Linked DNA regions of Homo sapiens. The protein of the gene in region 5 purifies or fractionates together with the protein of the main gene of each other region. This does not show direct contact. Each region holds a gene or a part of one and is shown on either strand. Other genes may lie near its edges.

What was found.
Region 1: the proteins of NHLRC3 (region 5) and SPRYD7 fractionate together in Homo sapiens (co-fractionation; one large-scale study listed by BioGRID). This does not show direct contact.
Region 2: the proteins of NHLRC3 (region 5) and HS6ST1 purify together in Homo sapiens (affinity purification with mass spectrometry; one large-scale study listed by BioGRID and IntAct). This does not show direct contact.
Region 3: the proteins of NHLRC3 (region 5) and RAB6B fractionate together in Homo sapiens (co-fractionation; one large-scale study listed by BioGRID). This does not show direct contact.
Region 4: the proteins of NHLRC3 (region 5) and MR1 purify together in Homo sapiens (affinity purification with mass spectrometry; one large-scale study listed by BioGRID and IntAct). This does not show direct contact.
Region 6: the proteins of NHLRC3 (region 5) and RAB6A fractionate together in Homo sapiens (co-fractionation; one large-scale study listed by BioGRID). This does not show direct contact.
Region 7: the proteins of NHLRC3 (region 5) and SLC19A1 purify together in Homo sapiens (affinity purification with mass spectrometry; one large-scale study listed by BioGRID and IntAct). This does not show direct contact.

The regions. Positions count from the first base shown.
Region 1 is NC_000013.11:49,929,841-49,933,340, forward strand, and holds part of SPRYD7 (SPRY domain-containing protein 7), read right to left. Parts: intron 1,295-3,500; coding exon 1,178-1,294; intron 1-1,177.
Region 2 is NC_000002.12:128,270,369-128,273,868, forward strand, and holds part of HS6ST1 (heparan-sulfate 6-O-sulfotransferase 1), read right to left. Parts: intron 1-3,500. UniProt on the Homo sapiens protein: 6-O-sulfation enzyme which catalyzes the transfer of sulfate from 3'-phosphoadenosine 5'-phosphosulfate (PAPS) to position 6 of the N-sulfoglucosamine residue (GlcNS) of heparan sulfate.
Region 3 is NC_000003.12:133,836,883-133,840,382, forward strand, and holds part of RAB6B (ras-related protein Rab-6B), read right to left. Parts: intron 2,736-3,500; coding exon 2,624-2,735; intron 1,378-2,623; coding exon 1,284-1,377; intron 1-1,283. UniProt on the Homo sapiens protein: The small GTPases Rab are key regulators of intracellular membrane trafficking, from the formation of transport vesicles to their fusion with membranes. Rabs cycle between active GTP-bound and inactive GDP-bound states.
Region 4 is NC_000001.11:181,040,483-181,043,982, forward strand, and holds part of MR1 (major histocompatibility complex class I-related protein 1 isoform 1 precursor), read left to right. Parts: intron 1-3,500. UniProt on the Homo sapiens protein: Antigen-presenting molecule specialized in displaying microbial pyrimidine-based metabolites to alpha-beta T cell receptors (TCR) on innate-type mucosal-associated invariant T (MAIT) cells.
Region 5 is NC_000013.11:39,044,956-39,048,455, reverse strand, and holds part of NHLRC3 (NHL repeat-containing protein 3 isoform a precursor), read right to left. Parts: intron 1,417-3,500; coding exon 1,304-1,416; intron 783-1,303; coding exon 530-782; 3' UTR 1-529.
Region 6 is NC_000011.10:73,754,575-73,758,074, forward strand, and holds part of RAB6A (ras-related protein Rab-6A), read right to left. Parts: intron 1-3,500. UniProt on the Homo sapiens protein: The small GTPases Rab are key regulators of intracellular membrane trafficking, from the formation of transport vesicles to their fusion with membranes.
Region 7 is NC_000021.9:45,535,941-45,539,440, forward strand, and holds part of SLC19A1 (reduced folate transporter), read right to left. Parts: exon of another isoform or gene 2,899-3,500; coding exon of another isoform or gene 2,819-2,898; intron 2,069-2,818; coding exon of another isoform or gene 2,020-2,068; coding exon 1,831-2,019; exon of another isoform or gene 1,827-1,830; intron 1,430-1,826; exon of another isoform or gene 1-1,429. UniProt on the Homo sapiens protein: Antiporter that mediates the import of reduced folates or a subset of cyclic dinucleotides, driven by the export of organic anions.

The DNA.
Region 1 (3,500 bases), about 11 Mb from region 5:
GTGCAGTGGCATAATCTCAGCTCACTGCAGCCTCTGTCTTCCGGGTTCAGGCAATTCTCCTGCCTTAGCCTCCCGAGTAACTGGGACTACAGGTGCCCACCACGATGCCTGGATGATTTTTGTATCTTTAGTAGAGATGGGGTTTCGCCATGTTGGCCAGGCTGGTCTTGAACTCCTGACCTCAGGTGATCTGCCCACCTCGGCCTCCCAAAGTGTTGGGATTACAGGTGTGAGCCACTATGCCCGATCACTTTACAGTAAAGCTTTTATTTTAAAAGTTTTCCCATATACAATACAGGCACAGTTAACTAACCTATTATAATCACATAGAATTGCTTTACAGTTCAAGAAACTCCATAAATTTTAAAAAGAGAAATATAGACTGCAGACTTCTATCTGAATTCTGAATTTGATGACTGCTTCAAAACACTGAATCAGGGTATCTTAATAACTGAGTTAAGAGAAAAACTCTGGCTCATGCCTGTAATCCCAACACTTTGGGAGGCCGACGAGGGCAGATCACAAGATCAGGAGTTTGAGATCAGCCTGACCAACATGGTGAAACCTCTGTCTCTACTGAAAATATAAAAATTAGCTGGGCATGGTGGTGCATGCCTGTAATCCCAGCTACTCAAGAGGCTGAGGCAAGAGAATTGCTTGAACCCGGGAGGCGGAGGTTGCCGTGAGTCAAGACCGCGCCACTGCACTCCAGCCTGGGTGACAGAGCAAGACTCCATCTCAAAAAAGAAAAAAAAAAAGAAAAACTCAGAATCAACAGATTGACTTTAATCCTAAAATAAATAGCAAGAGTATATGCTGCTTATATGTTTGACCTTATATGCTTGACCAAACAAGAGGGTTCATCCGGATCCCATTAAAAATACTAGTGCCTTATATTTATGCAGCATGTCTTGTCTTAAAACACTTTCATACATAGAGTTCCTGTGAGGCAGAATGGGCAGCTCCTGTAATACCCATTTTATAGATGAGAAAACTGAACCTAATTTAACTAAATTAACTAATTTACCCAGGATCACACAACAAGAGGTGGAAGACCCAGATCTTCTAAGAGTTTGGTGCTTTTATATTACCTTCTGAATCTTTTTTATGTGTTACAAATTACTCTTAATATTTAGAACAATTAGGACTTTTAATAGTAAAGTACCATTATACCAACCTGTGGACTGGATTTTGAATTCAAAATAGCTTTTGTTTTGATGTAAAGGTGCGCTGGCTAAACAACCTCCTGTTCCACATATTCTTCTTCCATTCTTTACAATAACAACATCTGTTCCTAAACAAAAAATGCAGACACTATGTAAAGTTTTGTATTTTCTTTTCTTTTCTTTTCTTTTTTGAGACGGAGTCTTGCTCTGTCACCCAGGCTGGAGTGCAGTGGCACGGTCTTGGCTCACTGCAACCTCTGCCTCCTGGGTTCAAGTGATTCTCCTGCCTCAGCCTCCCGAGTAGCTGGGACTACAGGTGTGCACCACCACACCTGGCTAAATTTTTATATTTTTAGTAGAGATGGGGGTTTCACCATATTGGTCAGGCTGGTCTTGAATTCCTGACCTCGTGATCCGCCCACCTTGGCCTCCCAAAGTTCTGGGATTACAGGCGTGAAGCACCGCGCCTGGCCAAGTTTTCTATTTTCAATCCAACAATCAGGATTAATTTGTTCAGTTCTAACTCAGTCCACAAAAAATAGGGACACTGTAAGTACTTTGAAATATAGCTGAATTATTTTAAATATTTAATTCACTATTTTTTCCTAAGAGAACATTTATAAGTAATATTCATTTGTATGTATAAGTTTTAATTAAGCATGCTGGGTACAGTGGTTCGTACCTGTAATCCCAGCACTTTGGGAGGCCGAGGTGGGCAGACTGCTTGAGTGCAGGAAGTCGAGACCAGCCTGGGCAACCTTGCAAAACCCCATCTCTATAAAAAATACAAAAATTAGCTGGTGTGGTGGCACAAGCCTGTAGTCCCAGCTACTTGGGAGGCCGAGGTGGGAGGATCACTTGAGCCTGGGAGGCAGAGGTTGCAGTGAACTGAGATTGCACCACTGCACTCTAGCCTGGGCGAGAGAAGTAAGTTTTAATTAAGCAGTTTCAAGTAAACTGCAATAACTCTGAATTATATTGAACGTTCAAAACACTTTTAAGGTAGAAATAGACTAACTCTTTTAATTTTTAGCCAGGAAACCAATTTGATGATTTCATAAATTTCTTAATTTAAACCAAAACATAAACACAAGAGACTTTAGTAAATTGGTAGTTTTCAATTCTATTCAAATGAATTAAAACAATTTACTAAAAGCCACCTGAATGCCTACTAAATACAAGCTACTATACTTGTGCATTAGTCATGTAAGAACTGAAGAGTACAGGGAATATGAAAAAGAACACACATCTATGTTGAAATACCTGACAGTGACAAACTGCTAACTTTAGGATCTTAAAATGTTTATTAAGATAGCTACTTCAATCACATTGCAAATATGTAAACAAGGTTTTAACATTCTTACATGCACTTTATTCTCGTAGAAAATTTTTTAGATGAAACGACATCTATAGATGAGAGTGAGAAAGAGAGACACTGTCTCCTGATGTGATCCTAGTACCAATTTGATTTAGGAAAATGTCTATCAGAGAATATACATAATTCTAACATGTAAGAATACACAGAATTACATAATTCTAATATGTAAGAAATAGCCCATACACCAATGCATAACTCCCCATACTTGTGGCCACTACCACCACTTTGCTGGCAATAACTGTACCAGCCAAGCAGATCTGAATATTCGAACTGTATGGGACTCTTCCAGAAGGGGTTAAATAAAATTAGGTCATAGTAACAAAAGGTTGAATTAACAGTTAAACAAAATTATTTGGTACAAATACATAAAAGAAATGCAAAATTTTCAGATTCTAACACAATTCTAAACTGGTTAAGAGATGCTCTCCCTTAAACAAGGCAAAACTGAGATCCTATTGTATGATTACTAAAAATTCATTAACATCTTTTTTTTTCTAATTAAAAAAGTTAACCCCCAAATTCTGGGAAAGTACCTTTATAAATAATTTGCATCTGGCTACTCCATATACCTCCAGTAATTTCAACTGGAGAGCATCCTCCTTGATGGCAAAGACCATGCAGTGCTTGGCATTGAGCAGCTGCTCATCAAATAACTGATAAAGGTTGAATTAATATGCTGTGCTAAGCACTTTGTAGTGGACATGCAGTATCTGTTCTCCCTCTCCCGACAGACTTCCCTCTGGAGATCAAAACAGTTCCAAGAAAGCTGACTCAATCTCTGCTTCAGGTGTACAACATTTGATCTAGGTTAAGGCAATCAGTGCCCTCCACATTTCTTGGCCACAGTAACTGAGTCAAGAACTGCTACATGACCTAATCAACTACAATCAGAATCTCAGGACTTTTGCAGAGCACAATGGGATATAACACTCTTGGCCAGGCGAGGTGGCTAACAC
Region 2 (3,500 bases), on a different chromosome or scaffold from region 5:
CCAGGCTCCCACTTCACACGTCCCAAGGCACACCTGGCCCTCCCCAAGCACCCTGCACCCACAGCCTGCCTGGTACCACCCATCCATGCTGATGGCAGCAGCTCCTGGGCACTCGGGGCCTCAAGGGCCAGAGGGCGGGACCTTCTTCAGGTAGCAGGTGAGACAAACGTTTTAGAAACAATAATGACCAAGGGCCAGGGAGTAAGGGCCCGAGGCGGCCGGGGCAGGCTTCTGTCTCCTGCCTCAGGCTCACGAGGCCCTGACTGCTCAGAAGAGGCTATCCATATCCTTCCTAGCTGACCCTGTGTCCAGGGGAGGCATAGGGCCGCATGGACCTCCGCTCCCCACTCCTGTGGGGCCGTGACCAAATGGATGGAGACAGGCCAGTGTGGCAGGTTTCTTCTGAACACAAAAAACCACAGTGTGATGTGTCCACCAACAGAGAAGCTTGCCCTCCTAGCCCCAGCCAATGACCCTGTGAGTTACAGCCACAAGGACTCTGGCCCCAAGGGTGACTCTGAGGGCAAGGACACGCTGTGCACAGTGCAGCAGGCCCCATCTGGGAAACACAAATGGCTCAGTTCCTCTCCCATTTTCAGCGCCCCAGCCCACAGGCGGGTCCTTCAGCCCCAGCCCCACACCCATTCAGGGACCATCCCCTGAAGCCCAAGGCATGCCTCCATCATGAGCTCCTCTGCCCATGGCCCAGAGAGGGTGTGTGACTTGCCCAGGGCCACAGAGTCATGACACTGGCCAGGGTCTGTGCTAGCTGACTGGAAGACCTGCAGAGCAAGCTGCCCTGTGCCTGGTTAGCAGCGGGGACAGATCCCGTCAGAGGCCCAAGCATGCAAGGGCTTGGCACCCTGCAGATGGGGTCTCCCATGGTGTAGCCTGTGCCTGTGTGTGTATCGTGCAGGCTCCAGAAGACGCTGATGAGCCTTAGAGCCTGCTGGTCATGTCTGGAGCCACCTAGCCAGCGCTGGGCCTAATGACTGAGGGAGCAGGCAGAAGTGGTGTGAGGCCCCTCGGTGGAAGGGCTGCTTCTGGGCTGGTGGAGGGTCCGGGTCACCTGCCTGGCTCCCACCTGGGAATGCATGCAGGCACCAGGCCTCGATCCAGCCTGTTCCTGGACAAGGGCCCTGGCTCCTCAGCTCTGGGGGTGCAGAACACGGGGAAATGCGAGGGAGGGAGCACAAAGCGGGGAGCTCGTGGCCAGGCTGTGAAGTGTTTCTGCTCAGTTCTGTCCGCCCCTGCTGTCAAAGCCTCCAGCTTCATGGCAGGACAGACTCTACCTGCCCTCACCCTCCTGCTCACAGTGGGCGGCTGCAGCCCCAGAAGACGCAGCACTCAAAGCTGGGGTTGCCACCTGCCACGATCCTGGCCTGCAGTGACGGGTGGGCACGAGGGCCCCGATTGACCCGAGGGCTTTCCCCTCCTGGGAGGAACTCATTCCTCAGCCGCACACAGTGGTCTGACCACACCGTGGGTCTTGGCAGCCAAGCTCGAGCGGCTGCCACTAGGGCACATAACTGCAAATGCCAGGTCAGCACCAGAGCACAGAGGGATGGAGGTGAAGCCGGCACCTTGGGAAGGGCCAAGACATGGTCTACACCAACCCCATACCCAGGTCCCCTGGGCGTTCAGATGGCCCCTGGCCACCTGAAGGCAGGAGCCTGGTGGTGAGGGCAGCCATGGGCCACAGCCACAAGGCTCCCTTCTCTAAGTCCCTTCTCCCTGGCAGCGACGTTTCTGAATGACAGCCTCCTCACCCCTGCAAAGCTCAGGGCCTCTGCCGTGGAGGGGCTGGAGCGTCTACCTGCTGCCCTCCCGATGTGGCCTGGTGCCCCCTCCCCTCCCCAGCACCGTCACGGTCTGCAGGTAGGAGGACACGGGTATATCACCCCTGGTCTCTGCATGGGCCATGCCCTTCACTGGAATGCCAGTGTGAGTGACCGCCCCTTGGTCAGACCTCTCCACCTTTAAGACCCAGCTCAAAAAGATAAGCGGTTGCCAGTGCAGGAGTGCGAGAAGAGCCCAGAGCACCCAGCAGGCACATGTAGTATGCACAGTGGGCCGGCTCTAGTAGCCCCAGATGGCACGCGACCTACTGACCATCACGGGTGGGGGTGGCAGCAGGCTCAGTTACCACGTGTCCGACGGCAGCATCCTCTCTACACAGCTGAGGGGACACAGCTGAGGGGAACAAAGGCCTCTCTGCCTGCGCCTGCAGGGGCAGTGTCTTGAGGGGACAGTGAGACCCCAGGGCAACTGAGGCAGAGTTGGGGGCCAGAGACAGGGAGGAGAGAAGAGGGCTCGATTTTCTGGGTCCAGCCATTGAAATGACTCGGGTTTTTTGTGTGTGAGCCACTTAGAGAAGCCGTGAGCAATTTACTCTTTGGTTTCTGAAAAAGCTGGGAGGGTGAGCTGCTGAAGACAGACACTCATTTGAAAGCCATCTAAGTCCGGGGCCCTCAGAGGACTGGAGGGGAAGCTTTCTCCTTTACTGCCCCAGGCCTGGCTCTCTCCTCTGCCAAGGCCTTCTGTGCACAGGAGGTCTAGCAGGCACCAACAGGGGCAACGGCAGGGGAAAGGGGCACCTGAGCCAGCGAAAGCCCTCATGGTCCCTGGAATGACCAAGCCTGTCAGCCTCACCTGTCCTTCCTGCGCCCATGTCCCACATAACCCTTCTGGACCAAGGCCTCCCGCTGCAGGGACAGCTGCTGGGGAACCACACCAGGGAGGCGGGTGTGTTCAAAGATATTAGCAGTGCTGGCCCAGCGGCTCTGCGTCTTGTAATAAAATGGCGCAACGGACACTGCACCTGGGGGAGCCTTAGGAGCTGACCGAGGCCCCTGCCCTAAGGCCCAATGGCTTACGCTGTCCCCACGGCTCCCTGTGCACCTTCTCTGCTCAGAACATTGCCATGCCCTGGGTCCCCTTGTTCTGTCCCCTAGACACGGCCTGTGGTATAGACAAAGGGCCAGCCAGACTCTAGAAGCTGCCTGTGAGGCCAGCAGCCAAATGTGGGTGTTCCTGCCCCTTTCTGCAGATGTGACAGCTGATCCAGGCAGGGTGACCTGCCCTTGGCCACCGTCCAGTTCCTACCTACACCTGCCTGAACGGTATGGAAGCCACTACCTGGCACGCCCCTCCATAGCCGGTGGGACTCTTTAGGAGCCAGAGGCGTCCAGTCCCATGCCCAACACGCAGAGCCCTCCCCTCCCCTCTGCCTTGTCCCCTTCCCTCTGCCAAACACTGCAGGCACTGCTGGCCACAGGCACGTCCTGGCCATCCTCTGGTCTGGTGCCCCAGCTGCGCCTTGCCCTGTCCCACCTCCTGTGCTCCGTCCTCTTTCCTCCATTGCATGCGTTGCCAGACGCATCTGCTGTTTACTCTCCAGTCTGTCATCTGCCAAAAGGCGGGGTGGAGGTGTCAAACAGAAGCAGGAAGAGGGCGGGGTGTGGCGAGGTGCAGAGGACTCCCCAAATGGCCCACCCCAG
Region 3 (3,500 bases), on a different chromosome or scaffold from region 5:
CTTCTTGTCTCTTCTTGTCGTTCTGCCAGCCCACCTTCCCCACTGCCACCAGCACTGTCCACACAGGGCAAACCATCACTGCATCCAGAAGGCCAGTGCTGTATACACAGCTTGCCAAGGGTTCCCAGCAATGCTGGGGTGGCAGGGCAGAAGCGACCGCCAGGCCAACCACACTCCTCACCCAGAGTCCCCTCCCCATACCTCGGGCACCCTGCAGCCACACCTTTGCTGCTCCCCTGCTTGGCATGCCCTCCCTCCTCACCACCTCTCCAAGTCCTTCTCATCCCCAACGGCAGGAGTTCTTAACCCTTCCGTGAGCCAAGGACCCCTCTGGCAATCTGGTTAATCCTATGGACTCCTTTGAAGTATGTGAAATCAATTACATAGGATGATAAAGGGGACTACTGAGTACTGAAATAAAACTTCATCGACATTTGTGCTTCCTTATGAAACACATTGAACAGCGAGAACTAGCAAGAGATCTAATAAGTAGTGTGATGCTGAAACACTGATAGATGTGAAGTTCAAGATACCTGCAACACTATGAGGTGATGGGAAGGCATCTGTGATTTCTATTGGTGGTAAAGCCATAGGCACTGCTAATGTGACTGAGTGTCATTGCCTACATTCATCATTGAAGGACAAATCAGACGTCCTTCAGTGCTACGGACGGGTCAGTGGTTAGTGAAGATAAAGGTGCAATGTTTTCCAGCCCTGTCTGCTGACCTGCTAAATTCCACCCATGGACTACTCAGGGGCCCTCATGCTGCAAGGCTCAGCCCTAACTCCACTGCCTCGCCCTCCTGTGAGTTCCAACCACATCATGGTAGGCTCTTTCCCCCAGGCCTGAGTTGCCCTCCACAGCCCTGAGCACTTGCTAAGCGCAAGGCATGAACCCCAAATGCTGATCAGATTGAATTTTCCTGCACCTGTCATCCAAAGTGGGGTGAGGGGCTAGGGAACCACTGCTTCCCTCAGCCTCCTGGAAGCTGGTGGCTGGACACTCTTAGGGCCTGCTACGTGGGCCGTGACTGGCAACTACTACGGTGGCTGGTGACTTATGTTCTCCAGATGCCATGCCCGGAGTGGTCCCTCCCTCTTTTGGGCTTTACCAGCTCCGGAAATTAGCTCTCCCCTCCCTGGGCGCATCTATGGGTGTTCTGGTTGGCTGCCCCAATCCCATCACCAGCCCTTCAGGGCAAGGCAGCTCTGAGCCTGCAGCTGACCACAGGGCTACACCGTGCCGGGCCCCGTGCCGGGCCCCGTGCCAGGTGTGTCCTCACCTGCTTCACGTTGTAGCCAGTCTTCGCACTGGTCTCAATGAACATGACGCTCAGTTCTTTGGCGCGCTGCTCCCCCTCCTCGATGGTTATCTGCCTAGAGATGAGGGGAAGGGGGGAAATCAGCTCAGCAGAGAAGCAGACCCTGGCAGATATGAGGAGGGACCCACCCAGCAGGGCAGAGGGAGCCCACTGGGCCCTTGGTCAGTCCTGAAGACAGGCTCTGATCCCAAGGGTCCCTCCCGGGCACCAACCACAGTCTCGCTAGCACAAAGCAGGCACCAGGGAACAGTAGGACACTATCCGCTTCCCCCACTCCTTCCTTTGTGTCTTCTCAGCTTCAAAGCAGGCCCTGGGGTAGGGCTGCCCCATACCTGCCTTTCCCAGTAGTCACTACTGCAGAGCCTGTGCTTATGAAGAGATTCAAGCCAGGCAGTGCCACTCTGGGTGGTATTATCAGTCGCATTTTCCCTGTGAGAACACTAATGCTAAAAGTGTCTCCCCCAGGGCCACAAAGCTACTTAGCAGAGAGGGCTCCATGATGGGGCAGGCAGAAGTGGGTGAGGGTATGAAGGGCCTGGGTACCCTTTGTACTGGGATTTGAGCCCAGTTTTCCTTACTTTAAGGACAGAACTCTAGTAAAGCAGGCTCTAATTCAGATGATTCCTCAGGTGGTCAAGGGACGCTGCAGGAAGCCCACACTGCTTGCTGGAGTCCATGGCCTGTCACTTTATCTGCCCAAGTCAGGGTCATGTAAAATGAGTGGACAATGTACACACATGGCACCTCAGTTCTCCCTGTGCATGGAGGGCAGCATGGAGGAGCCTCTTCAGAGAAAGCTTCATGCCAGACGCAGCCACAAACCAGGCTAAGCAGGCTACGGCCATAGGTTTGTGGTCTGAATGCTCTGCATGCTCACACCTAGGGCCCAGGGCATTCACAGCCCCACGCACATTGGTGCAGACACTTCACAGGCACAGACAGTTCACAGTGCACACGCTGGGGCCTAGAGGACTGCTGTGTCTGGGGCAGGGCTGTGGCCATGGCAGGGCCTTAGACCATGCACTGCTGGGTCAAGCCAGGTGCACAGTGCTCTGTGTAGACAGCAAACGGAGAAGTGCCCCGCCCCTGCCTGGTGGTGGAAGACAGGGCTTCACAGATGAGATACCCATGGATGAGAGTCTACCAGGTGTCCTCAAAGCTCCTAGTGTCTCAAGGGACCTTTTCCGGATGCATGGTCAGAAGCACAGACACACCACCCATGCATCCCAGAGCTCCCTGTCCAGGAGCAGTTACAGAGGAGTGGAGGGTGGCACCCTGCACCTGTGTGCCCTTGCACCTACCTCTTATCAGCCAGGTCCGTCTTGTTGCCCACCAGCATGATGATAACATCACTGCCCCTCTCTGTCCTGACGTCGTCGATCCACTTAGAGGTCTGTTGGAAGGAGTTGAGATCTGGAGGCAGAAAGTGAGGATAAACTGAAAGCCAGGGCCAGCCACCAGTGGGAGATGGGAAGGGGAGGTGTGAGCCAGGAGCAGGAGGGAGGGTGAGCATGTGCCCTCAGATACCCAGGGAGGGGTGTGAGCTCAGTCAACACAGATCAGCTGGGTAGGGCCTTTCAGAGGGAACCGGGCCCTGCCCTGCGGCCCTGGGGAGCCACTTGCACTGTTCAGCCACCCTTTGTGGGAGAGGAATCACCCCATCTGGAAGATCACAGTGTCATGATTTGCCACATGGAATAGTGGCTTTAGGGGCCCACCTGAGAGACCTGACTCTGGGGATTCAGAGTGGAGAGTGAGAACTGGGTCACACGTGTGTGTGCATACACACACACACACACACATGCGCGCGCGACTTGGCAAGTTTGGGAACAGTGAGGGTGGGCAGAGGAGGACACAGCAGCCTCTAGGGAAGGAAGGGCCCTACTGAGTGGTGTCCCCACCATGGGAGCTCAGGAGAGTTTGGGGAAGGCCAGAGGGGTTTCTGAAGAGAACCCTCAGGCTCTGCAGATGAGAGGAGGGGAAAGGTGGCCCCGGGACTAGTCAGGGGAGCCAGGTGCACTCAAAAATCCAGGAGAGACAAGGCCACTTCTGGGCAGCCTGACCCCCCTCAGCTGCCATGATAGGCCTTGCAGGGCAGAGCAGCTATAAGGCAATACCCACCACTCGGCAGCCTGCACACCCAAGGGGAGGGGAGGTAGCTGTCCTCAGAAGCCTCAG
Region 4 (3,500 bases), on a different chromosome or scaffold from region 5:
TGTCAATCAACTTCCCACCACAGCAGAGGTAACATTTTAAAGGCCCAGCTAAGGAGCAAGCATGACTTGTTCCTGTGGAGGCACCAGATGGGTAACTGGGCCCATGGCAAATGAAGAGGAAGGGACTGTGATGTCCTGGAGCAGAGCCACGCTGGGCTGAACCAGTGGTGGATGGGTGTGACTGAAAAAGCAAGTCCAGCCTTTAGGTGCCTGGACTTTGAAGTCAAGGCTGGCTGGTGGAGAACAACTGTTTCAAAACCAGGCATCAGAATTAGATTGAAGTTAAAAAAAAAAAAAACCCAGAAAGAAAGAAAGACACAGCCAGGCACGGTGGCTCATGTCTGTAATCCCAGCACTTTGGGAGGCCAAGGCAGGGGGAATCATGAGGTAGGAGTTCAAGACCAGCCTGGCCAACGTGGTGAAACCCCATCTCTACTAAAAATAAAAAAATTAGCTGGGTGTAGTGGCAGGCGCCTGTAATCTCAGCTACTTGGGAGGCTGAGGCAGGAGAATCGCTTGAACCTGGGAGGCAGAGGTTGCAGTGAGCAGAGACTGTGCCACTGCACTCCAGCCCGGGTGACAGAGTGAGACTCTGTCTCAATAAATAAATAAATAAATAAATAAATAAATAAATAAATAAAGCACAATACTTACTTGGACAGTATTGTCAACAGACCATATTTCTCTCTATCTACCTCTTTTAACTTCAGATAATGCAAATTCTTGTGAAAATTACATTTTTATAAGAAAGCAAAGTTACATGAATTGTAAATATTATGTTTGGAGATGATGCTGGTGATACTTAACTGGAATAAATCCTGCTATTGGGCACTAATGCCCCAAGTTGTTAATACTGGAGGTTTTTTTGCTTGTTGGCATCTATCAGGAATGTAGACCTCAGAGATCATAAAAATAGAAAACCCAGATTCCAGGGGATGTTCTACACCAACCCAGCTTAGCTCAGCAACACAGCATCTTTTTTTCTTCCTTCTTTTTTCTCCTCTCCACATTCTCTGTCTGGAGTCTGCTCTCCGTGGGGATTTTTTCCCATGAAAAACTATGGAAGTGATTCCTCCCTCTTTCTTTTCCCCTCACTCCCTCAACTCCAGCCACAGGCCTTTGTGCTGCTCCTGGAATGTGCCAGGCATGTTCTTTCCAGGGGCCTTTGCATGGCCCTTCTTGTCCAGACTGCTGTCCCCAGACACCTGCCTGTCTCCCCAACTCCTTGCAGGCACTTGCTCAGAATTCAGCTTTGTGGGAAACCTTCCTTAATACGCCTTCCTTTTTTAAATAGTGTTGCCCATTCCTCTTTGCAGTTTTATTTTTCTTCACTGTACTTTAAAAAAATTATATATTTTATTTTCTAGTCTGTCTTCTCCCCTTCCCCCGACTAGGGTGTAGACTCCATGAGGGCAGACATTTTTATCTGTTTGGTCTGGTACAAGCTTAGGGCCTAGAAGAGTGGCTGGCACAGAAGAAGCATTGGATATACAAATCAATATTAAGGAAGTGTGAGAACTAATATTCACAACTTGTTCCTCCTTTTGGGTCCTCCTTCTTTAGACAGTTGTGTACCTCCAGTGTAGCCACAAAACTTTCCAGATGTGAAAAAATAGAACTATTTCAAAATCAATTGCAGAATATATATAGTACCCTTTGCAGATCCCAGATTGCAGTTCAACTCTCCATTCACCAGCCTTCCCTTGAATCAAAGATAATTTTTTTTTTTTTTTTTTTGAGATGGAGTCTCGCTCTTGTTGCCCAGGCTGGAGTGCAGTGGCGCGATCTCGGCTCACCACAACCTCCACCTCCCAGGTTCAAGCGATTCTCCTGCCTCACCTCCCTAGTAGCTGGGATTACAGGCATGCGCCACCATGCCTGGCTAATTTTATATTTTTAGTAGAGATGGGGTTTCTCCATGTTGGTCAGGCTGGTCTTGAACTCCTGACCTTAGGTGATCCACCCACCTCGGCCTCCAAAAGTGCTGGGATTAGAGGCGTGAGCCACCGCGCCCGGCCAAATCAAAAATATTTTTTAGGCCAGGTGCGGTGGCTCACGCCTGTAATCCCAGCACTTTGGGAGACCAAGGCAGGCAGATCACCTGAGGTCGGGAGTTCAAGACCAGCCTGGCCAACGTGGCAAAAACCCGTCTATACTAAAAAAAAATACAAAAATTAGCCAGGCGTGATGGTGGGCACCTGTAATCCCAGCTACTTGGGAGGCTGGGGCAGGGAGAATTGCCTGAAGCAGGGAGGCAGAGGCCGCAGTGAGCCGAGATCACGCCACTGCACTCCAACCTGGGCGACAGAATGAGACTCTGTCTCAAAAAAGATCCAGGTTAAATAGATTCATATTCATTTCAGCATATTTCATTATTCCAAACCACAGAAATAAAGTGTTTCACCAACAATTTAATTCACCCAATATTTACCAAGCTACTACCATGTGCCAAGCTCCCTGTGCTAAGCTTTGCAGGAAATACAAAGGAAAAAAGCAAAGTCCCTGTTCTTAAGTGCTTTAAGATTGAGAAGCAGGTAGAAGGTAGTAAGCAGAGGGAAACAGAAGGCAGAATCTGGTAGCTATTGGTTTTACGACAGAACTCATGCTCTGATGCAATCTCTGGCTCTTGTTTGCATAAGAACCAACACTTTTATGAAGAGGCTCTCATGACTACCCCAGAGGCTTCCACTGTCTTCCCTCCCAACCCAAGCCCTCACCCACCACAGGAAGGGAAGGGGGAAGTAAAAGGTCAAAGCAATACAGAGGGACATTGGGACCTTATGCTGCCCCAGCCTGTGGGAGGCCAGCCTCCATCCTGTTCAGTATTGCAGCTGACATGCAGGATAACACCTGTGAGGGAGGAGCCCATGGGGCGGGGATACCTACTCTGAACCCTGCCAAACTGCTACACCCCAGCTCCAGGAGCAAGGAGAAAGAAGTGCTAACAATGATTTTAATTGCTGGGCGTGGTGGCTCACATCTCTAATCCCAGCACTTTGGGAGGCCAAAGTGGGAGGATCACTTAAGGCCAGGAATTTGAGACCAGCCTGGGCAACACAGACCCTGTCTCTATTAAAAAGAAGTGGTGACGTGCTTATAATCCCAGCTACTCAGGAGGCTGAGGTGAGAGGACCACTTAAGCCCAGGAATTCAAGGCTACAGTGAGCTGTGATCATGCCGCTGCACTCCAGCTGGGCAACAGAGTAAAACCCTGTCATACACACACACACATATGCACACACATACATACACTAACTAGTACAATCAGTTGCTCTGGGAGATACCTCTCAGGGCCTCTTGTTTTTCCTAGTATGCAAGGTAAGGGTACCCTGGCCTTGGGGTGGTCAGTTCTGAAAGATAACCTGCACATTATGAGTTATTTCATAAGCAGTTTTAGAGAAAAGAAAAATATAAACAAACTTGTAGCACAGAAGCTAATCCAACTATTTTGTGAGCTGATTTTTTTTTTTTGTCTGATCTTTTTTTTTTTTTTTTTTTTG
Region 5 (3,500 bases):
GCCTGCTTGTCTCCCCACTAGACTGCAAGCTACTCAAAAGGCAATCCTGCTTTTTCATTTTTAAGTCGTCAAGACACAGCACTCTGTGGGTACTCAAATTAATCAATAGTTCATCTTATTTACAATCTCTCAAGCAGCTCATTTTATGTTAGTTGCACAATCTGGAGGTCTGGAGTTCTTCACATGAAATTTAATAAATTATCATGCAAGCTCATTTTTATTCCCATTTTTTTTACCCAGGGAGAATCAGTCTACCAGGGCAAATAATGAGGTTACCACCTTAGTCCCTCTTCCCAACCCCATTTTTTAGTTACTTTCCTTTCATTAAAATATCCTTATGCACTTACAAATAAAACTAAGTCCCAAGAGGGCAACAAAATATAAGATTCTTAATGATACAAAAACAAATCTTTCTGATACTAGATCTTTTATACTAGAAAAATAAATTCTTGTGCTTGAACATCATTTTTAAGCACTTAGTGAATTGAGAATCTGAACTGCCACTTGAAATATTCCCAGGAAAGAAACATTATGAACCAAATGAAGGAACATAGCTATTCAAAGGGACATATTTTTGTACTTGTTTTGCTCCAATTTCTGCTACATAGACTGCTCCAGTCTTTCTGTCGACTTCTAGGAGATGTGGCAAAACTTGATCTGCTAGTTGGATTGTGCTGATCACAGAACACTCCCCAATGCTTCCCACTGGGGGTGCTGCTACGACTGAGAGCCTGCTAAGATTCAGCTGGGCCACAATCAAGTACTTCCCATCAGGAGTAAACCTAAGGAGAAAGACATTTAACATAATAAATGTCTGTGAAAAAACATAAGGGTATTTTTTTTCAACATTTTAATCCCCTACTGTGCCAAACAACAGTAGGCACCTACTTGCTGAATGATTCTTTTAAGAAGAATTTTAATTTGATCTAATTCTGTTTATGAAGGAATAAGATGTCCATGATGGTAAGCAAAGCCAAAGATTAGCTTAAATTTGTTAAAAGTATCAATATCATAGTCCACAAAATGAAATTAATGAAGAATTGATGTTAGGCTGGGTTTGATTTTTGTCCTGTTTAAACATTTACCAAATAAAGGCTAGAGGAGAGGTCTAGCATATGTTATTTCTTGTTTTCACTTTACCTGGCATCTGAAAATCTTGGATATCAAATTTCTCTGTATATTTCTATTTTCCCCTAATTCAAAATTAACAATAAATATTTTAAACTTTCAGCTAGCTATTCAGAGGAAGTGAGACACATACACTAACTAAAACAAGCATTTTGCAATAAAATGAAACAATTACCTGACTGAAGAAGGTCCCTCTTCTGTGAAACAATTATTCCATGCTCCTAACCACTCCCCAGTGTCTTTATCAAATACTTGGATTCTTTTATTTCCTCGGTCAGCAACCCACACCTGAGAAACACACAAAAATGTCAATTGAAAAATATCCATGAGAAGAAAAAAGGGAAAAGAATGTTTATTTTCATTAGTTTCACCATACATTATCTCACTTAAGAGGATTCCAAAGAAGGTAGTTAAGTCCCATTTTCAGATGAGGAAAAACTAAAGTTCAGAAAGGTTGCCGTCTCTGAAGTGAGCTTACAAATGGGAGAGGCACAACCCAAAGCTGTCTTAACCCAAAGCTTATAATACTCTGTCTACTGTTCTAAATGTGTGAATAACTAAAAAGCTGGAGTACTCTACCATAATGCAGGGGATCAGTAGATAATGAAAACTGACAACATTCATTCATTCCTCTAACAAGCATTCATTTTTCAATGAGTACTACTGGCTTGTCAGCTCCTGGGCCAGGCAACATGACAAAGAAAAGCAGCCTTACTTCTCAAGAGCTCAATATAGCAGGATGTGAGGTATTCATTCAGATTGCAGTATCATTAAACCCATACCTGCTATTACCAAGGTATGTACAGAGTGCTGAACCAACTGAAGAAGCCTGAGGTATTTTAGCAACAAATAAAGAACAGTAATAGGTTTAATTTAGGTTTGTTATAGGCTGTAATGGGTTATTAAGGAACTTGTTCTAAGACAAGAAGTGAGATGCATTCTAAATGACATTTCATGGCCACATGCATGCAGCTTAAAGCATAAAGGGAAATGGTTTTTTTTATTTTTTGAGATGGAGTCTCGCTCTGTCACCCAGGCTGGAGTGCAGTGGCGCAGTCTCGGCTCACTGCAAGCTCCGCCTCCCGGGTACACGCCATTCTCCTGCCTCAGCCTCTCCGAGTAGCTGAGACTACAGGCGCCCGCCACCACGCCCGGCTAATTTTTTTGTATTTTTAGTAGAGATGGGGTTTCACCATGGTCTCGATCTCCTGACCTCGTGATCTGCCCACCTTGGCCTCCCAAAGTGCTGGGATTACAAGCGTGAGCCACCGCACCCGGCAGGAAATGGTTTTTGATGACTTGTGGCCAGGGTTGTAGAGAGGTATGAAAGAATGGACTGGGAGTGGGTCAGTCCTCTTTACTTCTACCTCCCTGCTTTTGGTCCTTTGGATTTCTTGGGTTTGTGGATTGAGAGATAATTTCTTCACAGGTAACCCTGATTACAGCTTCATCAATATGTGTGAATTTTGGTAGCCATTGAATTAATCTCCAATCAGAAACAAATCAAAACTCACTACACCATTTAAGAAAGGTTGTTGATGCCAAAGTAAAGCAATTTCTCAAGGTCTTTTCCTGATCTATGGTCCTTTAGTAAGGATAGGTTTTCTTAAAGAGTTTGAGACTAGTATCCCAGACAAATGACCAAGGAAGAAGTATAGTTTACACCCTAGGATGGAATGATACTTTAGATTGTTAGCATCATCTGTCCTGCTCAACACTCAATGAATTTTGATTATGGGAACTCCTGTTTAACACATAACAACAAGTCTGGAACTGACTAACCTTTCATATAGGGTTGTGGTGATGATTAAATGAATTAATTATGTAAAATGCTCAGAACAGAATTGCTATTGTTATAAAACACAATTTTGTATAATTGACACTCTTTATCACTCAGGAATGCCAGAGTACCCCCATCAGATGATTTCCAAGGCCTTTTAGAAGGGCGTTCCTCACCATGATGAATTTACCTGGGTCGAGGTCTCGCATGTTCTGAAATTTGATTTTTTTTCTTAGCACACAATGAGTCACCCAAGCTCAGGAGGATAATGTGCAAAAGTTTAATTCAAAGTTTCCAGTTCCCAATTTATATACAAAGTTCACATGGTTGATTAACGTCTTATGGCAGATCAGAAGATTTAATGATCAAAACATTCTCATTTTTGTCAATCAATTATGATTAGGAAGCCAAGTCATAATTAGAAGTTTGTTTGCTGAGCACTGAATCAGAAGTAGAAATGGATTAAATGCCTAATGGTATGAAGGCAAGTAGCCTAATGTACCCATTGTGTGTCAAGACATTTAGTCATTTAATAAATAAATATGACTACTGTGTACTAGGCACAAAGAAATAAAGCAAAAGAGATTCAGTA
Region 6 (3,500 bases), on a different chromosome or scaffold from region 5:
TCTCACTAAATATCTGTTTGGAAAATAGTTCTTTTTCATTTCAGAAATGATGTTAACATGAAGGCTGGGCACAGTGGCTCATGCCTGTAATCCCAGCACTTTGGGAGACCAAGGCAAGCAGGTCACTTGAGGCCAGGAGTTTGAGACCAGCCTGGCCAATATAGCAAAACCCTGTCTCTACTAAAAAGTCAAAAAATTAGCCAGGCATGGCGGCATGTACCTGTGGTCCCAGCTATTCAGGAGGCTGAGGCATGAGAATCGCGAACCCGGGAGGCACTCACTCCATCCTGGGCAACAGAGGGATGCAGTCAAAAAAAAAAAGGGTATTAACATGCAATGGGTTTATTATTATTATTATTATTTTTTTGAGATGGAGTTTTGCTCGTTGCCCAGGCTGGAGTGCAATGGCGTGATCTTGGCTCACTGCAACCTCCACCTCCCGGGTTCAAGGGACTCTCCTGCCTCAGCCTCCTGAGTAGCTGGCACTACCACTGGGACCGTCCACCACCATGCCAGGCTAATTTCTTTGTATTTTTAGTAGAGACGGGGTTTCACCATATTGGCCAGGTTGGTCTCAAACTTCTGGCCTCAAGTGATCCGCCCACCTCGGCCTCTCAAAATGCTGGGATTACAAGCATGAGCCACCACGCTCGGCCCTATTATTTTTTAACATATTAAATATTTTGAAATTTTCTTTTTCAATACAGTAAATGTTGATATATTTATTCATTTATTTTGAGATGGAGCCTCACTCTGTTGCCCAGGCTGGAGCGCAGTGGCACGATCTTGGCTCACTGCAACCTCCACCTCCCGAGTTCAAGCAATGCTCCTGCCTCAGCCTCCCGAAGAGCTGGGACTACAGGCACGCACCACCATGCCCGGCTAATTTTGTATTTTTAGTAGAAACGGGGTTTCGCCATGTTGCCCAGGCTGGTCTCGAACCCCTGACCTCAGGTGATCCACCCACTTCGGCCTCCCAAAGTGCTGGGATTATAGGCGTGAGCCACCGCACCCGGCCTAAATGTTGACATAAACTACATAAACAAAAGTCAGGCACAGTGGCATGTGCCTATAGTCCCAGCTACTAGGGAGGCTGAGGCAGGAGGAGAGCTTGAGACAAGGCTGCAGTTGGCCATGATAGCCCCTGTGAACAGTCACTGCATCCAAGAAGGGGGAAGGAAATGGGAAGAGGAAAGGAGGAAGGAAGGGAGAAAAGGAAAGGAAGGGGGAGGTGGAAAGGGGGAAGGAAGGGAGAAGGGGGAAGGAAGAGAAAGAAGAGGAGGAGGAGGAAGAAGAACAAGAGGAGGAGGAGAAGGAAGAGGAGGAGGAAGAAGAGGAGGAGGAGAAAGAAGAGGAGGAGGAGGAAGAAGAACAACAATAACAACTACATTAACAGAGCTCTTCAGGATCCTCAAAAATTTGTAAGAGCAGAAAGGGGTCTTGGGGAAAAAAAGTTTAAAAACCACTGATCTAGCCAATATAAAATGTTCAGTACTGGCCAGGCGTGGTGGCTCACACCTGTAATCCCAGCACTTTGGGAGGCTGAGGCCGGAGGATCTCGCCAGCTCAAAACTTTGAGACCAGCCTGGGCAACATGGTAAAATCCCATCTCTACAAAAAAATACAAAAATTAGCCAGGCGTGGTGGTGCGTGCCTGTTGTCCCAGCTACTTGGGAGGCTGAGGTGGGAGGATCACTTGAGCCTGGGAGGTGGAGGGTGCAGTGAGCTGAGATCACACCACTGCACTCCAGCCTGAGTGACAGAGGTAGACCCCGTCTCAAAAGAAAAACAACTGGTCAGTACTGCTAGTCTCTGACAATAAGACATTTTTTCCTTATCTAACATATTGCAATTTGATCAGCATTGATGGAAAAAAAGAAAAGGCAATATAAAGTGAAAAAAACAGTAGTAGGCTGAGTATGCGCTTCTCTCTGCCATTACATCTCCTAATTTATAATTGGTAACATGTATATATAGTGAAATCTTCTACTGTAAACCACTGAGTGACATTACTAAAACTGCCTCTGCATCTCAAGACAATAGCCAGAGGTAGTAACAAAACAGACTCCTCAAGGAAACTTCCAATTGTGTATTTCAACATTCCTTTATTTATTTATTTAGAGACAAAGTCTCGCTCTGAGGCCCAGGCTGGAGTGCAGTGGGGCAATCTCAGTTCACTGCAACCTCCACCTCCTGGGTTGCAGTTTTCCTGCCTCAGCCTCCTGAGTAGCTGGGATTACAGGCACACGCCACCACGCCCAGCTAGTTTTTGGATTTTTAGTAGAGATGGGATTTTGCCATGTTGGCCAGGCTGGTCTTGAACTCCTGACCTCAGGTGATTTGCCTGCCTCGGACTCCTAAAGTGCTGGGATTACAGGCGTGAGCCACCACGCCCAGCCAAACATTCCTTTATTAAACCGTAAGAATTTATCTAAGGTTAAGATTGATGTCATTAACTCAATCTGCTTCATGTACTGACACAATTCATTTTCACTATAGAGCGTAGTATCTTAAATATACATACATATATATATATATATATATATATATATATATTTTTTTTTTTTTTTTTTTTTTTTTTTTTCTTGAGACAGAGTCTCACTCTGTCACCCAGGCTGCAGTGCAATGGCATGATCTCAGCTCACTGCACCCTCCGCCTCTCAGGTTCAAGCGATTCTCCTGCCTCAGCCTCCTGAGTAGCTGGGATTACAGGCTCCCACCCGCCATCATACCTGGATAATTTTTGTATTTTTGTAGAGACCGGGCCATGGGGTGGGGGGGAGCCGGGGACTCCACCATGTTAGCCAGGCTGGTCTTGAACTGCTGACCTCAGATGATTCACCTATCTCAGCCTCCCAAAGTGCTGGGATTACAGGCATGAACCACCGCACCCAGCCTAGTATCTTAAATTTTTGATAAGCCAAATAAAACCTAATTTCAAATCAGTTCCATGAGCACATCATTGGTATAATTTGAATACTTTTCATGCGTTACATTAATAGCAAATAATTTAACAACTTTAATAAAGGAAGACGAATTTTGCTCAACTCAAAAAAAAGTACAAAATTCAGGTCAGTCCTATTTTTTGAATGAAATGGTTGGGCCTCTAAACGATTGGTTTCTCTACCCCCTTAAGTATCTGATATATTCCTGTATACAATCAAATGATGTAAGTTTTAAGTGTTATTGTTAAACTATCAATTGCGTAACCATGTCAAAGAGTGTAACATAGGCTACTAGCTTTCGTTACTACTAGATTCAGCCATCATTCATTTACCCAACATGTCTGAACAGCTACTATGAGCCTGGCTCTACGCTAGGCAATGGGGACACACTGAACAAAAAAGAATAGTTTTTATCTTCATGGGAGTTGCATTCTTCTGTGGGAAATAAAAACAAACACATAAAAAATAAGATAATTGTAAATGTGGTAAATGCTATTAAGAAGAAACAAGGCTTTGCCATAGATTACAGTCTTTGAAAGCTGAATTGTGGAATTC
Region 7 (3,500 bases), on a different chromosome or scaffold from region 5:
CCTGGCAGGCTGGGCCTCCCTTGCCCCCGAAGCTGCTCCCCGCCCACCTACTGGTGGCTGCCCCTGCACCCCGGCGCCCACGTGCCTGCTCCCGCGTGAAGTTCTTGTCGGGCCCCAGGAGGGAGGGCGTGATGAAGCTCTCCCCGGGCCTCTCCTGCAGCCAGAGGGGCTGAGATCGGGGGCCCCACCAAGTGGCAGGTGCGCAGAGCACCTGCACCCATCGTCCCTCTGATGATATCCAAGGCCTGGTGGAATGGCTTAATTTCTGGAATCTACTTTTTAATCCGTTAATGTACAACATGAGAGGGCAGGCAGATGGGATTTAAACATTTTTGCTCTAGAGACTTTTCTTATTTTGTTATTTTAAGGGAAACGCCACACATAATGCTCACCCCTATAAATAACCTTGGCGGTGGACAGTGGCCCTCCACTAAGAGCAGAGATGCCATCTGGTCAGTGGGTGGCAGGGAGAGGGACGGACTGGCCAGGAGCAGAAGGCATTTCATGAGGGGTCAAGGAGATGGCTCCGCCGCTCCAGCCCCAGCCCCGCCACCGACAGCCGGAGCCAGGGCAAGACCCTGTCCTCGCCTAGAAAGTGACCCAGCCTGGCGGTTAGCAGTGCTGGCCGTGGGACGAGACACAATCACACCGCACGGTGCTCTGAGCTGGGCACGCGGGAAGGGCAGCACCTCCACTGTCCCAATAGCACACTCCTCAGCTGCACATCAGTTTCACAATTCTAGGGTCTGGGAGGGTTGGGGTCCGGCTTCCGGCCAGGAGACACAGGGAACAAGAGGCATGCCGAGCGTCAGCCATGTGGGAGCAGAGGACGGGGTCAGCGGCTGGGATGGGCAGGTGAGCAGGCCCAGGGCCCTGGGATGGGGTGTCGGGGTGACCAGCTGGGCCGGCAGCCTGTGAGAGCGCTTTTCCAGGCTCTTCCTGTGCAGATGTGCCTTATGGACAAGGACCCCACAGCTCCAGGAGGAAACTGCTTCGGATACGGCCGCTCCCGCCTCCACCGCTCATGTGACCTGAGAGACCCGTGACTGGGCATAAGCCTATTAGAACAGTTTCAATAAGACCCTTTGTCCTCATGGCTGAGTAAAATGAAAATTCCTTCAATAATCTCTTTAGGTAAATAGCCACTAAGTCTCTGTGGAAGGCAGGTGCCCAGCAGGGTTGGACGTGGGCTTCCTCACCAGGAGGGCCGATGAGCACGGCCTGGCGGGTGGGGTGGGGCAGGCTCTCTCTCTGCAGGACACAATATCACTTTTTATCTAGCCTGGTTACTAGGCCGAAGCCAGGCCCCTCCATCTGATGGTGCCCGCTGCTGGGAGTGTGAGACCCCAGCCGGGTTCCCTCCAGGACCATATTATCAGCTGACACGGCCACTCACCCGCTCCAGCCTCAAGTGCTCACACATCCAACAGGAAAAGCGCCCTGGCCCCTGAAGCTGCTCCCCGCCCACCCATAGGCGGCCGCCCTGGCACCCAGCACCCACGTGCCTATTCCAGAAGCTGCTCCCCGCCCACCCACAGGCGGCCGCCCAGCACCCCGGTGCCCACATGCCTATTCCAGAAGCTGCTCCCCGCCCACCCACAGGCGGCCGCCCGGCACCCCGGCACCCACGTGCCTATTCCAGAAGCTGCTCCCCGCCCACCCACAGGCAGCCGCCCTGGCACCCAGCGCCCACGTGCCTATTCCAGAAGCTGCTCCCTGCCCACCCACTGGCGGCCGCCCCCGCATCCCGGCGCCCACGTGCCTATTCCAGACGCTGCTCCCCGCCCACCCACCCACAGGCGGCCGCCCGGCACCCCGGCACCCACATGCCTGCTCCCGCGTGAAGTTCTTGTCGGGCCCCAGGAGGTAGGGGGTGATGAAGCTCTCCCCTGGCCGTATCTGCGCCATGAAGCCGTAGAAGCAAAGGTAGCACACGAGGTGCCGCCAGGACCGGAGCTCGGGGTCAGGCCCAGGTTCCACGGGCACCTGCTTCTCCACCGCTGGGCTGGAGGGCACCATCCTGCTCAGGCCACGTGCAGCTCCGGAGGGGACGAAGGTGACGCTGTGCCTGGAAGGAGGGGTGGAGTCAGGGCACCTTGGAAGATGGTCTGCAGGCCTCCCTACCCCGCAAAACGAGGCCCAGTGCCGGCCTCCTCGCCACTCAGGACCAAACGCCACCCTGGAGACGAATGCAGACCCCAGACCCATCCTCACCCCGTAGCACCAAACTGGGAGCCACCCACACCTGAGCTGCTCCGGAGTCCCCCAGGCCAGGCTGTCACCACCTCCAGGGTCTCCGAGGCTGAGGGAAGTCTCCAGCCACATGGAGTGATTTAAGTGCCAATCAAAACCAAGTTAATTAACTAATTGACTTACTTTATTAACTAAACTAACAAAATTTAGGGTTTGGGGCCACACTAGACTCATGGCACTGCTGGGCAGTACCTGTGGCGGTCAGGGGGCACACCTCACCCCACAGGCCTGAGGGCAGCCCACGTGCCTGCTGCTGCTCTAGCGGCACCCAGGTGGCCCAGGGAGGGCACAGGCAGGAACGGACGCTGCTGGAGGCCGGGGTCACACCACAGGTGGCCAGCGGCGGGTGGCTGCAGGTACCAGCCTCAGGTCCCCATCAGCCGCGTGCCCTGGCAGGAGGGCGTGCAGGCCAAGCCCACAGTGAGGGAAGGGCAGAGGGAAAAGCAGGTGTCCTTGAGGGGGCTGAGAGCAGCCAGGGTTGAAACACGCGTGGGAGGGAGGATGGGATGGAGCCGAGGCCCAGCCCCTGAGCCCAGGGACCCCAGCATCCCCGGCGGCAGGTTACCCTAGACGAAAGCAGCTGGCAGGAGCCATGAGTGGACCTGACACGTTCCAGATGGAGCACCCCAGACCACAGGACTTCATCCACGAGGCAACATGCACCCAACCTTGGGGACCATCCCGCCAGCACCCCCGCCCCACACGGCCAGGGCACGTGGTGGAGCAGCAGCAGCACGAAGCACACTCGAGGGCGTGTCTCTTTCAGTCCTGATTCTGCCCAGGAGAAAGGCTCCTCCGGTGCGGGCAAGGGCACGTCTCACCACCACAAATCGTGCCTTTCAGCTGCGGGGCAAAAGCCTGTCCACTTATCAGAATCATGTCTCCAGGTGCCACGTGGCCCTGGTTTTCCATTAAGGCCTCGGTGTAAAGTTCTCCTTCAAGTAAGTCAAAAGTGAACTGCCATAAACAAGTGTGTCAGACGCCCACACCAAGCCAACCCCGTGAGGCCAGGACCTGGCCCTGGTCCCCCACAGGTGCACCTCACGTCTGTATCAGCTGACCTCTGCTCCCGGAGGCCAGGCCTGGCAGAGTGCACGTGGAAAGGCCATCTGCTGCTCAGGTGGGGTGGGGATGCAGCGCATGCAGAGGGCAGCTGAGCAGCCTTGTGGGGCGGGGTCGCCGTCCCATCTGCACTGGGCTGACAGTTGGACAATTGTGCCTCGCCACAGGGCCGGCTTGGGAGGGTG